Linked DNA regions of Homo sapiens: region 1 is linked to region 2. Evidence: fine-mapped expression QTL. A gene starts in region 2. The other region holds a variant in brackets. All regions are shown on one strand. Distances are between the middles of the regions.

Region 1 (8,329 bases), 40 kb before region 2:
TGTTCCTCTATTTTTGAAAATTGGGGTAGAATATGAAATATGCGAGTCCTAAATGTTCAGCTTAAATTTCGAGAAGTGAACATAGCACTGTAGCCTATATCCTTATCAAGATAGAGAATGTCTCTGTCACCTCAGGTCACCTTGTGCCTCTTCCCACTTGATCTCCCCCTTCCCAGTCCCTGGGCAGCCTCCCATCCAGTTTTGTCTCCATAGATGACACCTGCCTGTTCAGGCCAGCATGGGCTCTTGTGTTTCAGATCTTTCAGCATAAATGCCTTTGGGATTCATCCATGTCATTAATATGTGTATCAGTTTTGTCCTTTTTAAAAAAAATATATATATATTTTAGAGGCAGGATCTTGCTCTGTTGCCCAGGCTGGAGTGCAGCGATGTTCTACTGCAGCCTTGATCTCCTGGGCTTAAGTGATCCTCCTGCCTCAGCCTCCTGAGTAGCTGGAACTACAGGCGCATGCCACCATGCCCAGCTAAGTTTTACATTTTTTTTGTGGAGATGGGGTCTCACTGTGTTGCTCAGGGTGGTCTCAAACTCCTGGCCTCACGTGATCCTCCCACCTCAGCTTCTGTAGTAGCTGGGACCACAGGCATGTGCCGCCATACCCAGCTAATCATTATTTTTATTTTTATTTATTTTTGAGACGGAATCTCACTCTGTCACCAGGCTGGAGTACGGTGGTGCGATCTTGGCTCACTGCAACCTCTGCCTCCTGGGTTCAAGCTATTCTCATGCCTCAGTCTCCCGAGTAGCTGGGATTACAGGCCTGCCACCAGGCCTGGCTAATTTCTATGTTTTTAGTAGAGATGGGGTTTCGCCATGTTGGCCAGGCTGGTCTCAGACTCCTGGGCTCAAGCGATCTGCCTGCCTCGGCCTCCCAAAGTGCTGGGATTACAGACATGAGCTACCATGCCTGGTAGCTGATTTTTATATTTTTTTATAGACAGGATCTCGCTTTGTTGCCCAGGCTGGTCTCAGAATCCTGGGCTCAAGCGATCTACCTGCCTTGGCATCCCCAAATGCTGGGATTATAGGCATGAACCACTGCGCCTGGACAAGAATATATTAACTATACTCACTATGTTATACAATAAATCTCTTAGAAAGCCTTTATTTGAACTTTTTTTCTTTATATTGTTTGGAAACAACTACAGTCTCAAGAGCAGTAGATTGAATTGTGATGCAGGTCAGGCCTTTGTATCCAAGGGTTCCACCTCTGGCATTCAACCAACCACAGATTTAAAATATTCAGAAAAATTCCACAAAGTTCCAAAAAGCAAAACTTGTATTTGCCACTTACCAAGTACTACATGGAATCCATGAGAATAAAGCAACGTGTAGACGTTATGTCAGGTATTACAAATAATCTAGAGACGACATAAAGTACACAGGAGAGGCCGGGCGCAGTGGGTCATGCCTGTAATCCCAGCACTTTGGGAGGCCAAGGTAGGAGGAACACTTGAGGCCAGGAGTTCAAGACCAGCCTGGCCAACATGGCGAAACACCTTCTCTACAAAAAATAACAAAAATTTGCTGAGCATGGTGGCACACACCTGTAGTCCCAGCTACTCCAGAGGCTGAGATGGGAGGATCACTTGAGCCCAGCAGGTGGAGGTTGCATTAAGCCGAGATTGCACTAGCCTGGGTGACAAAGCAAGACTCTGTCAAAAAGTAGTGTACACAGGAGAATATGTGTAGCGTATATGCAAATACTATGCCATTTTATTTTATTTTATTTTATTTTATATTTGAGACAGAGTCTCACTCTGTCGCCCAGGCTGGAGTGCAGTAGCACAATCTTGGCTCACTGCAACCTCTGCTTCCCGGGTTCAAGTGATTCTCCTGCCTCAGCCTCCCAAGTAACTGAGATTACAGGCATGTGCCGCCACGCCCGGCTAATTTTTTTGTATTTTTAGTAGAGACGGGGTTTCACCATGTTGGTCAAGCTGGTCTTGAACTCCTGACCTCAAATGATCCACCCGCCTCAGCCTCCCAAAGTGCTGGAACTACAGGTGTGAGCCACCATGCCCGGCCTATGACATTTTATATTAGGGATTTGAGCACATTCTGATTTTGGTACCACATGGGGTCCTAGAACCAATCCCCTGGGGATACCGAGGGATGGCTGGACATAGATTTGTATACACATGTGTATCCACGTCTAGGCTACTTTTCTAGGAGTTGAATGACTGGATTGAAACTTTAGAACTGGCACAGCCGCTAAAAGTCAAGCAGGTGTTTTATAGGGATTTCATTAACTTTGCAGACTTCTGGAAGAATTGACATGTTAATGACAAGCCTTCCTTTCTAAGAACAGGGTTTGTCCTGTTTGTTCAGGAATTCCTTTGTGTCCACAGCTTTTCATCCAGATCTTGCAGACTTCATAACTTGATTCCTAAGTATTTAGTCCCTTCATTACTAATATAAATGGGATGTTTTCTTGATTTCTAAACCATGGTCCTTTGCCTATGGAGAGATGCTCCATTTGTATTGGCTGTGATTTTGTAAACTGTGTTTTTTGAATCTAACCAACTTGTTGAATTCCTTTTTTTTTTTTTTTTTGGAGATGGAGTCTCACTCTGTCACCCAAGCTGCAGTGCAGTGGCGCGATCTCTGCTCACTGCAACCTCCATCTTTGGGTTCAAGGGATTCTCTTGCCTCAGCCTCCTGAGTAGCTGAGATTACAGGCATGGGCCATCACACCCAGCTAATGTTTGTATTTTTAGTAGAGATGGGGTTTCACCATGTTGGCCAGGCTGGTCTTGAACTCCTGACCTCGGGTGATCCGCTTGCCTCAGCCTCCCAAAGTGCTAGGATTACAGGTGTGAACCACCGCGCCTGGCCTGAATTTCCTTGTTTTTAATCCCACTTTTTCAGTGGTCACATTTTCAGGTATACGATCCTTCACCAAGAACAACTTGAGGATGTATTTTGGTGTAAGAATTAGAAACCTTGTCTTTTCTTTTTAGAGACAGGGTCTTGTTCTTTCACCCAGACTGGACTGCAGTGATGCGATCATAGCTCACTGCAGCCTCGAACTCCTTCGCTCCAGAGATCCCCCAACCTCAGTCTCTGGAGTAGCTGGGACTACAAGTATGTACCATCACGCCTAACTAATTTTTATTTTTATTTTTAGTAAAGATGAGTTCTTGCTATGTTGCCCAGGCTGGTCTCAAACTCCTGGGCTCCAATGATCGTCCCTCCTCATCCTTCCAAAGTGCTGGGATTACAGGTGTAAGCCACCGTGCCTGGCTTCTTTTTTTTTCCTTTTAATATATGATTATTTTTTGTAAAGATGGCGTCTCACTCTGTTGCCCAGGCTGGTCTCCAGTGATTTCAATTCTTGTAAGTATAAAGCAGATGTGGAAGTGCTGGGTCATTTGGTGGTTCTATTTTTAATGTTTTGAGGAACCACCATACCATAGTTCATAG[T/C]GGAAGGCTGTTTTTTAAATGAAATAAACATGTAAGGCTGAGGTGCCCATCTACTTCCCTAGAAAAACCACAGTAAGGACATTGCCACGTCTCCTTTCTGCCCCTGTTTTTTGGCTGTTACCACATCTGCATGTCCATCAATTTAGTATTTCTTTCTTTTTATCTCTATTTACTTTTTTTTTTTTTTTGAGATGGAGTCTCTGTTGCCTAGGCTGGAGTGCAATGGCGCAATCTTGGTTCGCTGCAACCTCCGCCTCCTGGGTTCAAGTGATTCTCCTGCCTCAGCCTCCTTAGTAGCTGGGATTACAGGCACGCACCACCACGCCCAGCTGTTTTTTTTTTTTTTCTTTTGAAACAGAGTTACCTTCTCGTTGCCCAGGCTGGACTGCAATGGCAGGATCTCGGCTCACCACAACCTCTGCCTCCTGGGTTCAAGCGATTCTCCTGCCTCAGCCTCCTGAGTAGCTGGGATTACAGGCATGCGCCACCACGCCCAGCTAATTTTGTATTTTTAGGAGAGACAGGGTTTCTCCATGTTGGTCAGGCTGGTCTCGAACTCCCAACCTCAGGTGATCCACCTACCTTGGCCTCCCAAAGTGCTGGGATTACAGGCGTGAGCCACCATGCCTGGCCACACCCAGCTGATTTTTGTATTTTTAGTAGAGATGGGGTATCATCATGTTGGCCAGGCTCGTCTCGAACTCCTGACCTCAAGTGATCCTCCCACCTCGGCCTCCCAAAGTGCTGGGATTACAGGTGTGAGCCACCGCGCATGGCCTATTTTTATTTTTTTTTACAAAGTCTTGGCCGGGTGCGGCGGCTCACACCTATAATCCTAGCACTTTGGGAGGCCAAGACAGGCGAATCACCTGAGTTTGGAGTTCAAGACTAGCCTGGCCAACATGGAGAAACCCCGTCTCTACTAAAAATACAAAATTAGCTGGGCATGGTGGCACATGCCTGTAATTCCAGCTACTAGGGAAGCTGAGGCAGGAGAATCACTTGAACCCGGGAGGTGGAGGTTGCGGTGAGCTAAGATCATGCCACTGCACTCCAGCCTGGGCAACAAGAGCAAAACTCCATCTCAAAAAAAAAAAAGGAGTCTCACTCCATCGCCCAGGCTGGAGTTCAGTGGCGCAGTATTGGTTCATGGCAACCTCTGCCTCCCGGGTTCAAGGGATTGCCATGCCTCAGCCTCCCGAGCAGCTGGGATTACAGATGCCTGCCACCACACCTGGCTAATTTTTGTATTTGTAGTAGACAACAGGGGTTTCGCTATGTTGGCCAGGCTGGTCTCGAACTCCTGACCTCAAGGGATCCGCCCACCTTGGCCTCCCAATGTGCTGGGATTACAGACGTGATCCACTGTGCCCAGCAGAAACAGGACCTTTAGAGAGAAAATTAAACCCAGGTGTGGTGGCTTATGCCTGTAATCCCAGCACGTTGGGAGGCCGTGGCAGGCAAACCACTTGAGATCAGGAGTTTGAGACCAGCCTGGCCAACTTGGTGAAACCCCGTCTCTACTAGAAATACAAAAATACAAAAATTAGCCAGGTGTGGTGGCACATGCCTGTAGACCCAGCTACTCGGGAGGCTGAGGCAGGAGAATCACTGGAACCCAGGAGGTGGAGGTTGCCATTAGCTGAGATTGCACCACTGCACTCCAGCCTGGACTACAGAGTGAGACTTCACCTTTAAAAAAAATAATTAAAAAAAAAAAGTTTAAATGAGGTCATTAGGGTGGGCCCTAATCCAATATGACTGATGTCCTTAGAAGAAGAGATTGGGACATAGACACACACAGAGGAGGCCACGTGAGGACCGAGGGAGAAGGTGCCCCCACCTCAGAAGAAACCAACCCTGCCGACACTGTGATCTTGGACTTCCAGCCTCCAGAACTGAGAAAATAAATGTGTGCTGTTTAAGCCTCCTAGTCTGTGATATTTTGTTGTGAAAATGTGAGAAAAAGTAACTAATGTTAAGCTGGGTTTGCTCAATTCTGCTTTCCAGCGTAATTTCACAAAGCCCCTGACTCTGAGACACGTGAGACACGTCTGCGCAGCTCTACAGAACAAGGCTTTGAAGACAAAACAGGACAGAGCACAGGGCACACCATGTCCCTTGCCCGAGTCACTATATTCCTTAAATGAGTCTGGGCACGGTGGTTCATGCCTGTGATCCCAGCATTTTGGGAGACCAGGGCAAGGGCATCACCTTAGCCTGGGGAGGTTGAGGCTGCAGTGAGCTGTGATCGTGCCACTGCACTCCAGCCTGGGTGACAGAGAAAGACCCTGTCTCAAAAAAAAAAAAAAAAAAAAAAAGGCGTGCCAGGTGCGGTGGCTCATGCCTGTAATCCCAGCACTTTGGGAGGCCCAGGCAGGCGGATCACCTGAGGTCGGGAGTTCGAGACTACCCTGACCAATATGGAGAAACCCCCGTCTCTACTAAAAATACAAAATTAGCCGGGTGTGGTGGTGTGCATGCCTGTAATCCCAGCTACTCAGGAGGCTGAGGCGGGAGAACCGCTTGAACCCAGGAGGCGGAGGTTGCAGTGAGCTGAGATCGCACCACTGCACTCCAGCCTGGGCAATAGAGCAAGACTCCGTCCCCCAAAAAAAAAAGAAAAAAGAAAAAAAGGACCTGGGCCGGGCACGGGTGGGTCACACCTGTAATCCCAGCACTTTGGGAGGCCAAGGTGGGCGGATCACAAGGTCGGGAGATCAAGACCATCCTGGCTAACACGGTGAAACCCCATCTCGACTAAACATACAAAAATTAGCTGGGCGTGGTGGCGGGTGCCTGTAGTCCCAGCTACTCAGGAGGCTGAGGCAGGAGAATGGCGTGAACCCAGGAGGCGGAGCTTGCAGTGAGCCGAGATTGTGCCACTGCCCTCCAGCCTGGGCAACAGAGTGAGACTCCATCTCAAAAAAAAAAAAAAAAAAAAGGACCTGGTTCAAACCTTTTCCTACACATAAAATAACATCTAATGGGGTCAGGGTATTATGCTTCTGTAATCTATAACCAGATGTACTCTTGCACCCAAACCTTGATGTGGCTCACACCTGTGTAATCCCAGCACTTGGCTCATGGCAGCCTCACCTCCTGGGCTCCAGCGATTCTCCTGCCTCAGCCTCCTGAGTAGCTGGGATTACAGACATGCACCAACATGCTCAGGTAATTTTTGTATTTTTAATAGAGATGGGTTTTCACCACGTTTTCCAGGCTGGTCTTGATCTCCTGACCTCAGGTCATCTGCCTGCCTTGGCCTCCCAAAGTGCTGGGATTACAGACGTGAGCCACTGTGCTCAGCCTCTTTCTTTTTTAGAGACAGGGTTTTTGCTCTGTCACCCAGGCCAGAGTGTAATGGCACAATCATAGCTCACTGCAGCCTTGACCTCCTGGGCTCAAGCAATCCTCCTACCTCAGCCTCCCAGGTAGCTGGGACTACAGGCGTGCATTACCACACCCAGCAATTTTTTGTGTGTAGTGATGGGGTCTCAATGATGTTGCCTAGTCTGGTCTTGAACTCCTGGGCTCAAGAAATCTTTCTGCCTTGGCCTCCAAAACTGCTGGGATTATAGGCACGAACCACAGTGCCCAGCCAAGAAATATATTTATATGTTACATCTCACATATATTACATAAATGCATATTATATATTAATACATGTCCAAAAATAATATTTCCTTTCTTGGTGCCTTCTTTCCAAAGCATTCCTCATTAACAGGTTCTGATTCTTTCTTTCCAGGAAATGATTTGCATATATCTGCATATCTATGTGCTGTTGAAGATTTACACAAATTGGTTCCTGTAATATATGCCATTTTATATATCGCTTCCTCTTTTTTTTTTTTTTTTTTTTGAGATGGAGTCTTGCTCTGTCGCCCAGGCTGGAGTGCAATGGCGATTCTCCTGCCTCAGCCTCCCAAGTAGCTGGGATTACAGGCACCCACCACCATGGCCAGATTTTTTTTTTTTTTTTTTTGTATTTTTAGTAGAGACGGCATCTCACCATGTTGGCCAGGGGCTGGTCTTGAACTCCTAACCTCAGGTGATCCACCCACCTCGGCCTCCCGATTACAGGTGCCCAGCCTGTTTCCCTATAACATCTTTACTACCACGGGGTGATATCGAATTTTTGAAGCTTTGCCCAATCTGCTGGGTTGTTTGGATTTTGTGTTGCTCAGAGTACATTTGAGTAAGCTTGTAAAAATGTTTATCAGTCCTTTGGACCAGCTTCATATTTTCACCAATATAGCCAGGCCACCCTCCTGAAAGGCCACAGCGGCGTGCCTCTCTTTCCTGCTCTCCAGCTAATGTTTTCCCTTCCACTTGGCTCTCTACAGGCTTCTAGAATAATTTTTTCCACAAGAAAAGTTGGTGATATTCCAAACACTTGAGTGGCCTCCTCACTCACAACTCAGAGGATAAAAAAGCATAAACTTTTTTTTCCTGTCTTCTTATTTATTTTTCTCAGGGCATTCTCCCTTACAAGTTATTTTTTGTTTTGTTGCGTGTGTGTGTGTGCGTGTGTGTGTTTTTGAGACAGGGTCTCTCTCTGTTACCCAGGCTGAAGTACAGTCGCATGATCATGGCTCAACCTCCTGGGCTGAAGCTGTTCTCCCACCTCAGCCTCCTGAGTATCTGGGACTACAGGCACACAGAACTATGCCCAGCTGATTAAAAAAAAAAAATTTTTTTAAGGGCCGGGCGCAGTGGCTCACACCTGTAATCCCAGCACCTTGGGAGGCCGAGGTGGGCCCCCGTCTCTACTAAACCGTCTACTAAAAACACAAAAATTAGCACGGCGTGGTGGTGGTCATCTGTAATCCCAGCTACTCGGGAGGCTGAGGCAGGAGAATCACTAGAACCCGGAAGGCAGAG
Region 2 (8,329 bases):
CCTCTTTCCACCCGTTTGCTGGGGGAGGCCCCCGGCCGCAATGAGTAGGGTGCCCCTAACTCGCCAGAAGCTCACAGAGCACCACTCACTTATTGAGAGCCAGGTGTGTGGCCTCAGTTGTCCTCATAGCAGCCCTGAGAGGTGGGCACACCTGTTACCTTATTGCTCAGATGGGGAAACTGAGGCTTAGGGGAGGGCTTGCCTGAGTGAGGCTAGCCTGACCCCCATACTCACTTCCTGCCTGCAAATGCCACATGCTTGTTGATGTTGTGACATATCGCCCCTTTGAGGCCACGTTGTGCTCGGCTAAGTGGGAGAGAGATGTGGGTTCAAATCCCAGCTGTATCACTTCCAGCTGTGGGGACTTGGGCAAGCCACTCCCTGCCCCCTGGGTTCCCACTGACAGGCATGTTAGAGCCCAGGCTCTGACTCCAGGTGGCCAGGGTTCAAATCGCAGCTGCCCCTGCTTGCTGGCAAGTGACTTCGGCCTCAGTTTCTTTGTCTGTGAAATGGGGATAAATAATAGGACCTGTCTCCTGGGGTCACTGCAGTGATGAAATAAATAAATTCCTGGAATCTTGCCATGTGGGAAGTACTCAATGAATGCTACTCTCTGCTAATATTATTATTATTATTATTATTATTATTATTATTATTATATTTTTGAGACGGAGTTTCGCTCTTGTCTCCCAGGCTAGAGTGCAATGGCACAATCTTGGCTGACTGCAACCTCTGCCTCCCAGGTTCAAGTGATTCTTCTGCCTTAGCCTGCCAAGTAGCTGGGATTACAAGCATGCACTGCCACGCCCAGCTAATTTTTTGTATTTTTAATAGAGAAGGGGTTTCACCGTGTTGGCCAGGCTAATCTCGAACTCCTGACCTCAAGTGATCTGCCCGCCTCAACCTCCCAAAGTGCTGGAATTACAGGCGTGAGCCACCACACCTGGCCCCTCTGCTATCATTTTTATCATACTTTTATATGTATAAATGTAGACTATGATACATGTTTTGTTATACTCTGGTTTTGTTTGTTTTTGTTTGTTTGAGACGGAGAATCGCTCTGTTGCCCAGGCTGGAGTGCAGTGGTGCGATCTCGGCTCACTGCAAGCTCCGCCTCCCGGGTTCACGCCATTCTCCTGCCTCAGCCTCCTGAGTAGCTGGGACTACAGGGGCCTGCCAGCACAACTGGCTAATTTTTTTTTTCGTATTTTTAGTATAGATGGGGTTTCACCATGTTAGCCAGGATGGTCTCGATCTCCTGACCTCATGATCCGCCCGCCTTGGCCTCCCAAAGTGCTGGGATTACAGGCGTGAGCCACCGCGCCCGGCATTTTTTTTTTTTTTTTTTTTTTGAGACAGAGTTTCGCTCTTGTTGCCCAGGCTGGAGTGCAATGGTGTGATCTCAGCTCACTGCAACCTCCGCCTCCTGGGTTCAAGTGATTCTCCTGCCTCAGCCTCCCGAGTAGCTGGGATTACAGGCATGCGCCACCATGCCCAGCTAATTTTGTATTTTTTAGTAGAGACGGGTTTCTCCATGTTGGTCAGGCTGGTCTCAAACTCCCGACCTCAGGTGATCCGCCCGCCTCGGCCTCCCAAAATGTTGGGATTGCAGGCGTGAGCCACCGCGCCTGGCCTATTATACTCTTTAACAGCCCTACACTAAGCCTTTCAGGCAGGCTAAATCCACAGCGTTCCCATCACCAAAGCTGTCAAAGAAGCAAAGTAGCCATGATGCACCTGTGCTTCAAAGCCATTCATTCATTCATTCATTCATTCATTCATTCATTCATTCAACACAAGGGTTCCATTCCCCTGCCTCTCTCTCCTCCCCAATCCTCTGCTCATCCTAGCCTTTCTAGAGACTGCCACTAACAACCCTTCCCCACCTCCCAGCCTTTGCTTATGCCATTCCCTCCCCCACCCCAAGACCCCTGCCTTTCTTTCCCTTTCCCCTCCCAGGGCTCACTCCTCCCCATCCTTTAAGACTTGGTACCTCCTCCTCCAGTAAGCCTTCTCTGACCTCTGCGCCCCCGCTATGATGGCAATAATCCTGGCTCCTTTCATTGCTTAGTTTCATGGCTCTCTCCCCCATTGAATACAATCAGCACATAATGAGCGCCTACTGTTTGCAGGCTCCCTGGCCGGACAAATGATGGAGAGGTGAAAAAGTGAGATTGGGTGATGAGTTATGGACCGACAATGCCTGGTCCCTCCTGTTTCAGAGGGGGGTCAGTCACCATGAACGGGTCGGGTCCCCCCTCTTGCTCTCCCTCCCGTGACCCGGTCCTTTGCGAGGGGAGGGGATAGGTTACCTGGGCATCCAGATCGTTACTTAGTTCTTGGCCATCTTTTTGCTTTACCCCTGCGGGGGAGAGTGCATATAAGGGAAGGGCCCTTGAAGGGTCTGTGGGAGTTCCAGGCCACCCAGAGCCGCGACGCAGAGCCTCCCCAAGGCTGGGACCTCCGGGGGAGGTGATCTCAACGCCTCTCCCTAGACCACGCCCCCTCGGCGCTCCCACGCGCGGTCCCCGCACCAGGCCCGGGACCCCTGCAGCCTCACCGTACACGATGGAGCGCCCCACTCCCGTGTGGTCGCTGCCGAATTTCCTCATCAGAGCCCCCGCCTTCTTGGAGGATACCTTCCCATGAAACTTCTCCCGGAGGCGCCGGACGCTCTTCTCCAGCTGGGATGGAGACAGGGGGGTTCCGGTGGGGGAAGGGGAAACGGGATCATCCCTCCCCCATCTCTAGGCACCGTTCTCCCGGCCCGAACTTGACCCTTGGTTTTGGCCTCCGCCGCCCCCCCCCCGCCTTTCATCCCTTTACGGCATTTCCTGGAAAAAGCCAAAGTCCCCACAGGGCGTTGGGGGAAGGCGCGGACTGGGGCGAGCGTCCCAGCCTAAGGTGTGGGGGGGCGGCCAGGTTATCTCTGGCCTCTGACCTTTGACCCTGCAGCCCCCGCTTTTCCTCGGGGAGGCCTCATTTCGCTCTGGGGAAACGTGGGAGTCACTTTCCTTTTCAAGGGGGGCGAGCGCCAGGCAGGGGTAAGGATCTGGGGTTCTAGGATGGGGGTCCCCAGGAACTGCGAAGCCCCCTCCGCGCCTCCCGGCCGCTCCTCGGGGTCTGTCGCGGCTGACCCCGGCCCAGCCGTAGCCATCGCTTACCTCCACACCTTCCTGAGACATGGTGGCGGCGGCGCAGTTCCCCGCGAGGGTCCGCACTGCGCGGCTCAGCCGCCCCCCTACCTGGGTGCGCCCGTCGGTCCAGCAGCCGCGCAGGGCAGGGGGCGGTGCCTCGGGGCCGGCTCCGCCCTTCCTCCCCGGCCCCTGTTTCGCTTTCGATTCAGGGGGGACCCGGCGCGCTGGCTCCGCCCTGGCTCCGCCTCTGCTCTTGCGCCCCAAACCCAGGCGGGCGCCCCGGGTCTGCACCCTGCGGCGGAGCGCGCAGACCTCGGACGGGGGAGGCGGCGCGGCCTCTGCAGTCGGTCACATGTCCCCACGCTGCGCGGGGTCCGCGTCTTCACGTCCCTCGTGGGGGCGGGGCCGCATCAGAAGGCCGCGGCGAGGCCCCGCGCCCCCCCACCCAGCGCGCGCTCCCCCAGTTCATCACCCTCCTCTCTGTTCTCCCTCCTTCCCCGGGAATCTGGCGCTCATGAGGACCTGGGCCCTTTTCCTGCCCTGAGTCTCTGTCCTAGCTACGGTCACCTCTCTCAACCTCAGTTTACCCCTCTGTGAAATGGGGAGAATCCTGGTGTCTACACCATGGAGTGGAGTATGTGCCAAGATTCCCGAGTGGATCGCGTAATAGCGCCTGGCTTGCAGTAGGCGTTCAACTAGTCACTGGGCCACCTGCTGTGTGCCCTTGATAGGGGCAGGCAGTGTGTGTGTGGTTGGGGGGAGCGGTGCTTGAGAAAAATACAGATTCTTGGTCTCTAGTAGCCCGGTAGAATCCGGCTGTCTCAGGGATCCAGGGAATCTGCAATGGTTAAGAACCCCGTGGGACGGACAATTCTAACCCAGTACAGGGCACATCAGGGAGCCCTTAGGTGGTGGGGCTCTGGCCCAGCCTGGGGACACAGAGATGGCAACTTCATTGGAGGAGGGGATGCTTTGTAGAGTCACTGAAATTGGAGGTCTTAGCTAGGGGAGGAATAGAGTGGGGAGATGAGGCAGCCGTGCAGAGCCCCCAAAGCAAGACTAAGTCTGGGGTTTTTGGGCAATGGCTTCTCAAGCCCAGCACTCTTGACACTTTGGGCGGCCTAGTTCTTTGTGTGGGGGACTGTCCTGTGTATTGGGGGACATTTAACACCATCCCTGGCCTCCACCCACTAGATGCCAGTGGTTCCCTACTCTCCCTGTTGTGACTACCAAAAACGTCTCCAGAGACTGCCGGATACTCTCTGAGGAGCAAAATAGCATTGTGTTCAACGACTCCAAATTTTTTTCTCCATTGCACACCCCTATAGGTAAAAGTGTTAAAGTTACACCCCCAGATGGATATTTATTCATTTATTTATTTTTTGAGACAAGATCTTGCTCTGTTGCCCAGGCTGGAGTGCAGTGGTTTGATGGTGGCTCACTGCAGCCTCTAACTCCTGGGCTCAAACGATCCTCCTGCCTCAGCCTGCTAAGTAGCTGGGACTACTGGCATATGCCACTATGCCTGGTTAATTTTCTATTTTTTTTGTAGAGACGGGGTCTCACTATGTTGCCCAGGCTGGTCTCAAACTCCTGGCCTCAAAGATGGATATTATTTATAAATTATATACAAATACAATTATATCAATATATTCTGTTAACTGTTATATAAAATATTGATAGATAAATGGAGCTGGGCATGATGGTTCACACCTGTAATGCTAGCACTTTGGGAGGTCAAGGTGGGAGAATCACTGGAGGTCAGGAGTTCAAAACCAGCCTGGGCAACATAGCAAGACCTTGTCTTTAAAAAAAGAAAAAAGAAAAGGAAAAAGTTATTTTTAAAAGACTAAAAAACAAACAATAAAACCCCCCAAATCTAGATATTCTAAAGTTTTTCCAGTTGAACCCCAAAGCTTTGTTTATAGGGTGTATGTACTCCACTCTGGAGACTACTGTATTTGCAAACTACAAGCAGTTCATGATTCCTTGTGGCTGAATGGTGGAATCCTAGGCAGGATGGGGGCTGGAAACTGCACAGAAGACCTGGGATTTTATCCTGAGGGAAGTGGCGAGGTTTGGAGTGGATCGCCTGTCATAGTTGCCAGTTACTAATCTATTTGCCCAGTGCAGAGGGAGGTCATAGCTATGTCCCATTCACTGGCCGAGATGGGCACTGAGTGGGCAGGAAACAGGTAAGAGTCTGAGCTAGCCCTGACATAAATCAGATCTGGTAGGTTTTTTGTTTTTTGATTTTTTTTTTTAGCGCAGAATATGCAGACCAAAGGTCTGTTAGGTTATAATCACCGTGGCAACCACATAGAGCGTGTACTCTGTTCCCAATGCTGTTCCAGGCACTGTGGACATGACAGCAAACAAAACAAAGATCCCTGCCCTCGTAGAGCTAGCATTTTTTTAAATTTGTTTTAAGAGACGGGGTCTCACTCTGTCACCCAGGCTGGCGTGCAGTGGCACAATCATAGCTCCGCTGCAGCCTCAACCTCCTGAGCTCAAGCAATCCTCCGGCCTTGGCCTTCTGAGTAGCTGGGACTGCAGGTATGTGCCACCACATCCGGCTAATTTGTTTGTTATTTTGTTGTTGTTTTGTTTGGGTTTTGTTTTTGTTTTGAGACAGAGTCTTGCTCTGTCACCCAGGTTGCAGTGCAGTGGCACGATCTCGGCTCGCTGCAACCTCTGCCTCCCGGGTTCAGGCAATTCTCCTGCCTCAGCCTCCCGAGTAGTTGGGACTACATGCATGTGCCACCACTCCCGGCTAATTTTTATACTTTTTTGTAGAGCTGGGGGCGGGGGGGTCTCACTATGTTGCCCAGGCTGGTCTTGAACCCCTGGGCTTAAGTGATCCTGTTGCCTTGGCCTCCCAAAATGCTGGGATTTCAGGTGTGAGTCACTGCACCTGGTCCATCCTTATGATTTCATGTGGTCTTTGTAGCTTAGGACTTGAGAAATGGCTTTGCTGCTGGGCTGTTCTGGCTCAGGGCCTCTCAGAAGGTTGCAGTTAAGGAGTTGGTCAGGGCTTCAGTCATCTGAAGGTTTGACGGGGGCTGGCGAATCTGCTTCCAAGGTGGCTCACTCTCAGGGCATGCAGATGGGTGCTATGATTGGCGGGATGCCTCGATTCCTCCCAGTATACTTGAGTGGCATGAGTGTACTCCCAGCATGGGAGCTGGCCTCCCGAGCACCTTCCAAGAGCTGAGAGCCAGGTGGAAGTTGTATCTTTTTATGATCTAGCCTGAAAGTCCCACATCACTTCAGCCACATTATGTACATTAAAAGCTCATTGACTGGGCACAGTGGCTCATGCCTGTAATCTCGGCACTTGGGAAGCCAAGGCAGGAGGATCACTTGAGGCCAGGATTTCGAGGCCATGCTGGGCAACATAGTGAGACCCCATCAGCCAGGCGCGGTGGCTCACTCTTGTAACCCCAGCACTTTACGAGACCAAAGTAGGTGGATCACCTGAGGTCAGGAATTCGAGACCAGCCTGGCTAACATGGAAACCTCATCTCTACTAAAAATACAAAAATTAGCTGGGCGTGGTGGCGGGTACCTGTAATCCCAGCTATTTGGGAGGCTGAGGCAGGAAAATCACTTGAACCCAGGAGGCAGAGGTTGCAGTGAGCCAAGATTATGCCACTGCACTCCAGCCTGGGTGACAGAGCAAGACTCTGTCTCAAAACCAAAACGAAACAAAACAAAACAAAACAAAAAAAGCAGCAAATCTTGACCTGGAACTGGACCCTTGGAGGCTTAAGCTGGGCGACTGTGTTCAATTATGGAGGAAGGCCGGGTGCAGTGGCTCACACCTGTAATCCCAGCACTTTGGGAGGCCCAGGAGGGCAGATCACTTGAGGCCAAGAGTTCGAAACCAGCCTGGCCAACATGGCAAAATCCTGTCTACTAAAAATACAAAAAATAGCCAGGCATGGTGGTGTGTGCCTGTAGTCCCAGCTACTCGGGAGGCTGAGGTGGGGGAATCACTTGAACCCGGGAGGCAGAGGTTGCCGTGAGCCGAGATCGCACAACTACACTCCAGCCTGGGCAATAGAGTGAGACTCCATCTCAAAAAAAAAAAAAAATTGCTGGGCACGGTGGCTCACGCCTGTAATCCCAGCACCTTGGGAGGCTGAGAGCCCAAGGTGGGGATCACCTGAGGTCGGGAGTTCCAGACCAGCCTGACCAACATGGAGAAACCCTGTCTCTACTAAAAATACAAAATTAGCCAGGCATGGTGGCGCATGCCTGTAATCCTAGCTACTCGGGAGGCTGAGGCAGGAGAATTGCTTGAACCCAGGAGGCGGAGGTTGCGGTGAGCCGAGATCGTGCCATTGTACTCCAGCCTGGGCAACAAGAGCAAAACTCCATCTCAAAAAAAAAAAAAAAAAGAAAAGAAAAAAAATATTGTGGAGGAGATGGAGACCATTGGAGCATGTGCATGCTTTTCACAATCTAGTCAATTTCCCACTCCAGTTGAGTCAAATGAAAAATTGATCGGGAATGCTCAGAGCTGGAGAAGCTGTAGGGAAATGAGAAATCTCCCAAATCATTAGAGACAGCATCCGTTGGTGAAACCTTTTGGGAAGGACACCATGGAAAAATCTACTACTAAACTATTAAGCATGCTGGATTAATCATGTCTCTCATTTTCTGTTGCTGTCTTCTTCTTCTCTTTGTCCTTCTCCTTCCTCCTCCTCCTTCCTCCTCCTCCCTCCTCCTCCTTCTCTTCCTCCTCCTCCTCCTCTTATTCTTCTTCCTTTTTTTTGTTTTTGAGATGGAGTCTCGCTCTGTCGCCCAGGCTGGAGTGCAGTGGTGCGATCTCGGCTCACTGCAAGATCCGCCTCCCGGGTTCATGCCATTCTCCTGCCTCAGCCTCCCAAGTAGCTGGAACTACAGGCGCCCACCACCACGCCCAGTTAATTTTTTGTATTTTTAGTAGAGACGGGGTTTCACCGTGTTAACCAGGATGGTCTTGATCTCCTGACCTCATGATCTGCCTGCCTCAGCCTCCCAAAGTGCTGGGATTACAAGCGTGAGCTACTGCGCCTGGCCTTTTTTTTTTTTTTTTTTTTTTTGAGACAGAGTCTTGCTCTGCCACCCAGACTGGAGTGCCGTGTCATCATCATAGCTCACTGCAGCCTTGAATTCCTGGGCTCGAGCGATCCTCCTGCCTCAGC

What was found. PIP is the estimated chance that this variant, and not a neighbour inherited with it, causes the effect.
Region 1: its variant is fine-mapped to the expression of SHFL in whole blood (TOPMed, PIP above 0.99).

The regions. Positions count from the first base shown.
Region 1 is chr19:10,121,626-10,129,954 of GRCh38, reverse strand. No RefSeq gene overlaps it. Among named protein-coding and RNA genes, the nearest start is that of EIF3G, 5.9 kb to the right of the region's middle. The variant T/C (reference allele first, on the strand shown) is at 3,446.
Region 2 is chr19:10,081,284-10,089,612 of GRCh38, reverse strand. SHFL (shiftless antiviral inhibitor of ribosomal frameshifting) reads right to left here and starts at 3,296. Exons shown (of 8, transcript NM_018381.4): 1 at 3,165-3,296; 2 at 2,561-2,684; 3 at 2,313-2,362. The coding sequence starts at 3,185. RefSeq lists silencers at 3,028-3,307, 3,378-3,597.